Linked DNA regions of Homo sapiens: region 1 is linked to region 2. Evidence: fine-mapped expression QTL. A gene starts in region 2. The other region holds a variant in brackets. All regions are shown on one strand. Distances are from middle to middle.

Region 1 (4,394 bases), 28 kb after region 2:
TAGAGATTTGTTATTCTATTCACTGCCTAGCGCCTTTTTTATATGCAGTGGGAAGGAATGAATCACTTCTAGTGCCTCATACAGAAGTTGAAGGAGTCCTAGCAAATCTCCTTCCATCTAATTAGCTTTGATTGGGTAATACATCTATCCTTGAATCAATTATTGAGGTCAGGGAAAAGGAATATGCTAATAAATTTATGCATTTGACTGTCAGAACCTGTCCCTGGAGTAGGTCAGTTCTGCCCAAAAATATCTGGCTGAAAGTGAAGGAAATTTGAAGTCTCCTATAGGAAATAGAGGAATAGAGGAATGTTGTCAACTAACAAATATCCACCACAATGCTTTAATCACCACCTGGCTTCTCACTACACTGCATTTGTGAATTATTCATCAAAACCAAAGATGAGAGAAGTATCAAGAATAAAAGGAAGAAAAATGAAACAGCATATGAGGGGTTAACAAGACATGGGAATGTGGAAATTTGGGTAGCCTGCCACATAAATTGCAATGCTAATGGTGCTTCTTGGAGCTATGCAATGCAAAAAGGAGACTCTCCCAAAAGAAAGAGCTTTGGGTGCACCCTTTGATAGCTCAGCTGGTAGAACAGAGGACTATAGGCTGTATAGAAAGAGCTTTGGGTCTAAGAGAGTATGAAAAATCATGAGAGAGGGAGAGAGAGAGAGAGAACTTGAACTGTTTTAGAAATATATGCAAAATTTTCTCTGTGGGAAGCTAAGTGTGAGAGTTTGTCAACATGAATTTTTCATAAAACATTCTTATGAACACTGTACCTATGGAGAAGGAATCTTCCGTCGAGATCATCAAGCAGTTCTTTTTAATAGACACAAACCCAGCATAATTTGGAGGGAATTTTTCTCTGTTCCACTGTGATATGAAGCTCAGTCAAACAATGTCTCTGTGATTCCGAGATGAACCCAGAATAAGGTCTTGAATTATCACTGTCATTCTGCCTCTAAACTATTACATCATTCACTTTCTTTGTTCTAAAGCAAACTGAACAGTAATTTCCCCAATTCCTCAATAAAATTAGCCCAATAGTTTCTATACCTCAAAACAACTTGAGCTTTCCCTTTTTTATATAATTTCAAATTTTATTATAGATTAAGGGGTACATGTGCAGGTTTGTTACATGGGTATATTGTGTGACACTGAGGTTTGGGCTACAAATGATCCTGTCACCCAGGTAGTAAGCATAGTACCCAATAGTTAATTTTTCAGCTCACTCCCCCTTCTTTCCCTCCCGTCTAGTAGCCTCCAGTGTCTATTGTTCCCTATCTTTATGTCTGTGTGTATTCAGTGTTTAGCTCCCACTTATAAGTGAAACCATGCAATATTTGGTTTCCTGTTATGTTAATTTGCTTAGAAAAATGGCTTCCAGCTCCATTTTGCTACAAAGGACATTATTGCATTCTTTTTTGTGGCTATGTAGTATTCCATGGTATATATGTATCACATTTTCTTTATCTAATCCACTGTTGAAGGGCACCTAGCTTGATTCCTTATCTTTGCTTTGAATATATGAGTGCATGTCTTTTTGATAGAATGAATAATTTTCCTTTGGTATATACCCAGTAGTGGGATTGCTGGGTGAATGGTAGTTCTGTTTTAAGTTCTTTGAGAAATATCCAAATGCTTTCCACAGTGGATGAACTAGTTTGCATTCCCACCAAGAGTGTATAAGCATTTCCTTTTCTCCTCAGCCTCACCAGCCTCTGTTCTTTTTTGACTTGGTAATCATTGCCATTCTAACTGGTGTGAGATCTATCTCACTGTGGTTTTGATTTGCATTTTTCTGATGATTAGTGATGCTGAACATTTTTTTCATATGTTTATTGGCTACTTGTACATCATCTTTTGAAAAGTGTCTGTTCATGTCCTTTGCCCATTTTTAATTGGATTATTTGCTTGTCGATTTGTTTTTTGTTTGTTTGG[GTTT/G]TTTTTTTTTTTTTTTTTGAGACAGGGTCTTGCTCTGTTACCCATGTTGGAGTACAGTGGCACTATCACGGCTCACTGCAGCCATCCTCCCACCTCAGCCTCCCAAGTAGCTGGGACCACAGGCTTATGCCACTACATCTGGCTAATTTTTTTATTTTTATTTTTGTAGAGACAGAATCTTCCTGTGTTGCCTAGGTTGGTCTCAAACTTCTGGGCTCAAGTGATTTCCCACCTCAGCCTCCCAAAGTGGTGGGATTACAGGCATGAGCCACTGCACCTGGCCTCGTCTCTGATTTCTTTCAGCAGTGTTTTGTAGTTCTTCTTGTCGAGATCTCTGACCTCCTTGGTTAGATGAATTCCTAGGTATTCCACTTGAGCTATCTAACATTTGGAAATATTTCAGCAGACACCATATTATCTTCAAACTTGGATTTTCCCCTGTAAAATTATTCCAATGTTCTTGTTTTATTGGGGCAGCCCGGGGGTGGAGGAAATACAAAAACTAGGTACTAATTTCCTACCTGTAGGTTTCTTGGCTTGAGGATATTTCTAGAGTGCATTATAAACAGGACTAGGACTCTACTTTTATTCCTATTTTCCCTTTCCTGCTATCTGTAATGAACATATAATCCATTTTGTATCAATTCATGATGTTGACAAACTCATTTCCAATCTGAAGTGCTTTTTACAAATATAGCTACTTGGAGGCCGGGCATGGTGGCTCACGCCTGTAATCCCAGCACTTTGGGAGGCCAAGGCAGGTGGATCACAACGTCAAGAGGTCGAGCACATCCTGGCCAACATGGTGAAACCCCATCTCTACTAAAAATACAAAAATTGGCTGGGCATGGTGGCATGCACCTGCAGTCCCAGCTACTCGGGAGGCTGAGGCAGGAGAATGGCCTGAACCCAGGAGGCGGAGCTTGCAGTGAGCCGAGATTGTGCCACTGCACTCCAGCCTGGGTGACAGAGCGAGACCCTGTCTCAGAAAAAAAATAAAAAATAAATAAATAAAACAAATATAGCTACTCGGATTGACAATTATTTATGCCTGTGATTGTCTCAGAAGAGTCTGTACATGCAGAATACAATACTTCAGAATGTGAAATTATTTTCATGAATGAAATAGGCTTCAAAGTAAGCAGCCTCTGTTGTGTAGATCCAAAAAATTAAAGCCTGCTGGGGAGTGATGTTATTATAACCAAAATTTCAGGAGCCACCATACACTTTGACAAAGGACTATCAACACTGCAAGACCATCAGATTACCACAGAAAGTGTATGAACTACAACCCTAAGAGGGTCAGATACAATGGGGAAGGTATGAGAATCTGCCACTATTCTACCCCTGAAGACACACTCCTATCTCAGAAGGCTTCTGACCAAAAAGTATAGCATCTTATACAAAAATTAACTAAGATGGATTAAAGACTTAAATGTAAAACCCTAAACCATAAAAACTCTAGAAGAAAACCTAGGCAATATCATTCAGGACATAGGCTTGGGCAAAGACTTCATGACAAAAAGTATAGCATCTTACACCACTGAAACTATATTACTAAGAAGTACGGTCCAGTTTAATAAACCAAGTACTAAACCCAATTTTGGAAGCTATCAGAAAAACTTGTTTATTAAGTCCTTGAAATTATAGAAAATATGCTTACCTGGACCCTTAACAAGCAGTTGGTAGGAAAGAATGATTACTGCAGTGCTGTTGTCCCAGTAATGAGTTTAGAGACACTGGCCTTTGGATTGCTTGAGTAATATAGTCAATGCTGTAATGTGCTACCCAGATATGCCCCCTTCTCCCCACTCTTTCAGGACTTAAAGCTGCCTCTATTCTAAGAATTGCCCTCAGCATTAAATTTGTGCCCTCCCTGGGGGCAGCCCCCATCTAATGCCTAGTCAGTGCTCTGGTACCAGGGCTGATCCCTTACCTCAAATTTAGACAGTTTTGCAGAGCCGTCCCAGCTCTCACCCAAAGGATTGGCTAAACTTTTATTGTAACCTTATCGCAGTTCAACCTCATCTATCCAGTCCTGCTTCTCTGTCATCCTTACAGGTGTTTTTCCCGAATGTACTCTCTAGTAAACCACCTATGCTCAAATTCTGTCTCCAAAACTATGCCCAAAAAACCTGACCTATGACCGATTAAGTTGCAAATTTCTGGCATACTTGCACATTTTTAAACCCTTTGCTTCCTCTAATGTGACCTGTATAAAAATTCAATGATAAGCGTATTTGCTTGTCAGGGGATAATCTATAACAGAAAAAAATACACATTTCTTCTCTAAATGAATTACAATTACCAAAGCCCCAACCAGTAATGCTATGGACTCAGTTGTGTTCCTTTCAAAATTCATATGTTGAAGTCCTATAACCCCTAATATGATGGTATTTGGAGACAGACTTTGGGAGACAATTAGGATTAGATGAGGT
Region 2 (4,394 bases):
TAATAATAATAGCAGGCAAAAATCCTTGCCCACAGGGAGCTTCCATTCTACTAGAGACTTTACCTGTGGCAGGCACAGTGCTAAACACACCACAAACATTAATGTTCTTTGGTCTCAAATCACACAGTTTATGACAAGTTAGAAAACAAGTCACTTGATTCCAAAGTTGAAATTCCCACTTTGCCGAAATTAGATACTTGTGGCAAATCAAAGAAAAAATCATATTCCTCATCTTTGTAAAGTTTAAATTCTAAGTTCATTAGAGTAGACAGTGGAACATCAAGGAATTGTGCAATGGACAAAAAAAAAGAGAGAGAGAATGAGAAAGAGAGCAAGGCTGGTCATTCCTTGTGCCAAACACAAGACACATACATTTACCATTTGATTTCTTGTTTGTTTGTTTTTTTGAGACAGAGTCTTGCTCTGTCACCCAGGCTGGAGTGCAGTGGTGCGATCTCAGCTCACTGCAACCTCCGCCTCTGGGGTTCAAGCGGTTCTCCTGCCTCAGCCTCCCGAGTAGCTGAGATTACAGGCATGTGCCACCACACCTGGCTAATTCTTTTTTTTTTTTTTTTTGATATCTTTAGTAGAGACGGGGTTTCACTACGTTGGCCAGGCTGGTCTCGAACTCCTGACCTCATGATCTGCCCACCTTGGCCTCCCAAAGTGCTGGGATTACAAGCATGAGCCACCGCGCCTGGCCAATTTTTTTGTATTTTTAGTAGAGACGGGGTTTCGCCATGTTGGCCAGGCTGGTCTTGAACTCCTGACTCTAAGTGATCCGCCCACCTCAGCCTCCCAAAGTGCTGGGATTAAAGGTGTGAGCCAACATTTGGATTTTTTAGGTCTTCAGTTTTTTCCTTCATTTGGGGCTGGAGTAGAAAAACAGGAATTAGTGTTATGGGGAAGAGAGGGCAGTGGTTGCCTCTGGTGAGGAGCTCCGGATGCATTGGCGAGGAGCACAATGGCAGGCTCAATAGACTGGCAATGTTCTAGTTCTTAAGTTGGGTACTGCTCTCATGGGTGTTCATTTTATTGTGTCATTGTTACATATAATTTTGTACATCTCAAGCATTACATGGTAAACATGGGCACAGGGAGAATGACTTAAAGGAAAAACGTCAGGATACGCAACCAAGTAGAGTACTAATGAATGAAAAATGTGATCAATGTTAATGAAGGTGATGTAACAATAAGACCCAAAGGAGGAGATAAAATACTGACACTAAAATAAACAGCCTTTAACTGAAAACCTAATAAAATATCTTTTCCCCACCTCATAAGATGGATCTCAAAGGTCACTGAGTGGAGATAAGAGTCAGGAAATGGCATACAGAGTGCTAGCATTTTGCACTTTTGTTAGACTCTGAACAATCATTTATGGGCTGCAGTTTGTCTGAATCTAGGTACTTTTCCGGCTCTCAGGTAGAGCAGGAGTCATTTTTCTGCACGCTGTTCTCCTACCCCAACTATCATTTCTTAACAGGGATCTCTGGGGTCCACTCTTTGAGTGTTTTGAAACAGAAAGGAAGAAATCCAACATTATCACTTTAGTTTGCATTATCAGACAGATTGCACCTTCTGCTTTCTCCATACTGTGACCCAGTGTCCAGCCTAGGGTATTCGAATGGCAAGATCTGACCTGCGCAACAGCCAAAGGGAGCCACCAGCCTCCCCTATGCCACTCACATTTTCCCACCACCAATATCTGTAAGCGGTACCAGAAATCAAAACTGAGCCTTAAATAGTCAGAGCTAGTGAGGGGGTTGTATTTCTTAGCCCTGATAACCACTTAAACGAGTAAAATTTAATTCCCCTAAGGAACCCCGCCTGAAGCAAACCCTCCCCAAGGGCACCACTGAGGGGGTAGCGCTGAAATGTTTTGGAAGATTCAGTCACCTGTTTCCAAATATTACCTAACTAGCTTCGCCTCCTTCCCTCCGAGCTCCCCTGCAGTTACTCCAGGACCCCGAAGGCCTCTTTCTGGGCACATTTGGGCCTCCCCACTCAGACAAGCCGCACTTTCTCCCTGCTCACAGGCTGCATGTCAGGGATGGTAAGTGGGGGGTGGAGAAAGTGGAGAGGCCGGGGTTCAACCCAGCAGACTCCTGCAGACCGGGCCTCGGTCGGAGACGCGAGCCCCTAGCCTAGCTAGGTTCCTTCGTCGACCTTGAGAAAGGGGCGCGGATCCGTGTCCCGCAGAGGACACGGGGTCTCGGAGCCCGCACAGGCTGAGGGGCAGGGGTCCGGCCGAGCCGGGCCGCCTCACCTGCACTTCTGTCGGCCCACAGGATTAATGGCAGCACCAGCCCGAGTACAAGCCCCGGCGCGACCATGCTTGCAAGGATCTGACCGCCGCCTAGGACTGGGAAAGTGGGTTCCCGGCAGGGGCGGGGCCTGGGCGGGGGCGAGGCCGACTCCACCCTTTTGCAGTCCTCGCAGCCTCCCGCGACCTCAGGACTGGGCTGTACTCGCCCCTTCTCGGCCGCCGTAGTTTTTTTTTTTTTTTAAAGAAAAAACGGTTACCCAGCAACTAGAAAAACAACCGGAACCGGCGGCACCAGCTCGGAGAGAAAGGAGGTGAGGCCGCTTCCCCACTTCCTCTCCGATACCAAGACCTAGCCTTTTCCCTTCGTCTCTCTTATTCTCTCAGCATCCCAGACACAGCCTCGGAGCCCTGGGCCGTTTGGGAGCCGAGGCAGCCCATTCTGCGCGAGTCTGAAATCCCAGGTCCTCAACATCCCGCCCCCGACTAGACCCGTCTGCCCCCTCCGCCCGCCCTCCTCTGCCCACATTGGTTCAGAATCTCGCCAGCTCTTTTCACCACTCTAGAATGGTTCGATACCCCCATCTACTGCTCCCTCAGAAAAAGCAAAAGAGAGGAGTCAGGCGTGGTGGCGCGCGCCTGTAATCCCAATTGCTCGGGAGGCTGAGGCGGGATCATCGCTGGAGCCCAGGAGTTCGAGGCCAGAGACCCCCTCTCAAAGAAAAAAAAAGCGATGAAACGAGAACCCTCCATAGTCTGAGCCTCATTAAACCGTCCAGTTCTCCCAACCTGGACCCCTACCACGGCCTCCGCCTCTATTCCGCATTGACGCACACTCTCACATTAACAGGCCAGGTCCCGGAGGATTCTTTTCATACTCAGTAGTAGCTCAGCCCGCTGCTTAGCAGCTACCCTTAATCTAGCCCTTGTATTTCAAGACAGAAAGAGACAACCTGATCAAGAAGAAACCGAAAAATATAAGAATTCTAAAACTTTAGAGGCTGGGATTTCAAAATCATGACACACAGCCCCATCCCATCCCATCCCTCCCTCACACACACGCACGCACAACCCCATTCCACAGTACGAAGGTGTTCGAAGCATTGTGGGTCATGCTTCAGAAGTGGCAGCAAGGGGAAAGATTGTGCAACTTCTTCATTCAACAAATTAATTTCTAGAACCAGGACTAATTTCTACTCTTTAAAAAAAAATAGACCTCAAAGAAGGTCTTCTCAGCAATTGACAATGAATTTAACTTTTTAGCAATCATTCTCTCTAAATTCCTGTGTGATAGCAAAAATTACCCTTACCTTTTGAGCATATAAAGGGTAAAGAGAGAAAAAGTCATATTGAAAATTATGGGTTTTTTGCAGGATTTTAAATGATTTGGCCTAGTGAATGGGTCTGTGTTTGTATTATACTAATTCACAATGGAGATTTCAAAACTCTTTGGAAGAAATGGATGGGCTTGGGTTGTGTTAGGGAAAAAAGAATTCAAGTCCAGATGTATGAGTCTCAGAAATAATTTGTTGGCATAGTTGTGATTATATAAGTAAAATCAGACAAATTTAAAGACAGTACTCTTTAATGAATCTTTAGGTTCCATAGGCAGTTCTTACCAAGAAGATGTCGATTCCATTCTCCAACACCCACTACCGAATTCCACAAGGATTTGGGAATCTTCTTGAAGGGCTGACACGCGAGATTCTGAGAGAGCAACCGGACAATATACCAGCTTTTGCAGCAGCCTATTTTGAGAGCCTTCTAGAGAAAAGAGAGAGTAAGCTTTCTAAAATTAGTCATTTTTTAAAATAAGAAACTAAGCATTTGTTTATGGTAAAACTTGCTTAAGACCATCTCCATTCTGCAGAAAGCCTTTTATGAGGCAGGGAGTTTCAGATAACAGTTCTTGCTCTTTGAAACAGTATGTACCTCTTTGATATGTTCTCTTAAATTCGTTTCATATTATCGAAGATTACCAGTTCATTATTCAGACCGTCTTCATTGTATTTCTCACGGACATACAGCGTGGAAGGTAACTGCAAAAGAGCATACATTTCTCGGGAGAAATCAGTGGGGGAAAAAAAGATCATACAGTCTACCCTCGCCACGTTCCAGCATACTGTTC

What was found. PIP is the estimated chance that this variant, and not a neighbour inherited with it, causes the effect. A credible set is the group of variants that fine-mapping cannot tell apart.
Region 1: its variant is the best candidate, but not a certain one, in a credible set for the expression of SPA17 in prefrontal cortex (BrainSeq, PIP 0.72).

The regions. Positions count from the first base shown.
Region 1 is chr11:124,699,671-124,704,064 of GRCh38, forward strand. No RefSeq gene overlaps it. Among named protein-coding and RNA genes, the nearest start is that of SPA17, 28 kb to the left of the region's middle. The variant GTTT/G (reference allele first, on the strand shown) is at 1,954.
Region 2 is chr11:124,671,373-124,675,766 of GRCh38, forward strand. It overlaps SPA17 (sperm autoantigenic protein 17), which reads left to right and starts at 2,532. Exons shown (of 5, transcript NM_017425.4): 1 at 2,532-2,580; 2 at 3,866-4,046. The coding sequence starts at 3,893. It overlaps SIAE (sialic acid acetylesterase), which reads right to left and starts at 2,367. Exons shown (of 10, transcript NM_170601.5): 1 at 2,270-2,367. The coding sequence starts at 2,336. It overlaps LOC124902780 (a long non-coding RNA gene), which reads left to right and starts at 4,053. Exons shown (of 2, transcript XR_007062933.1): 1 at 4,053-4,190; 2 at 4,294-4,394. RefSeq lists silencers at 2,303-2,422, 2,395-2,553 and an enhancer at 2,463-2,642.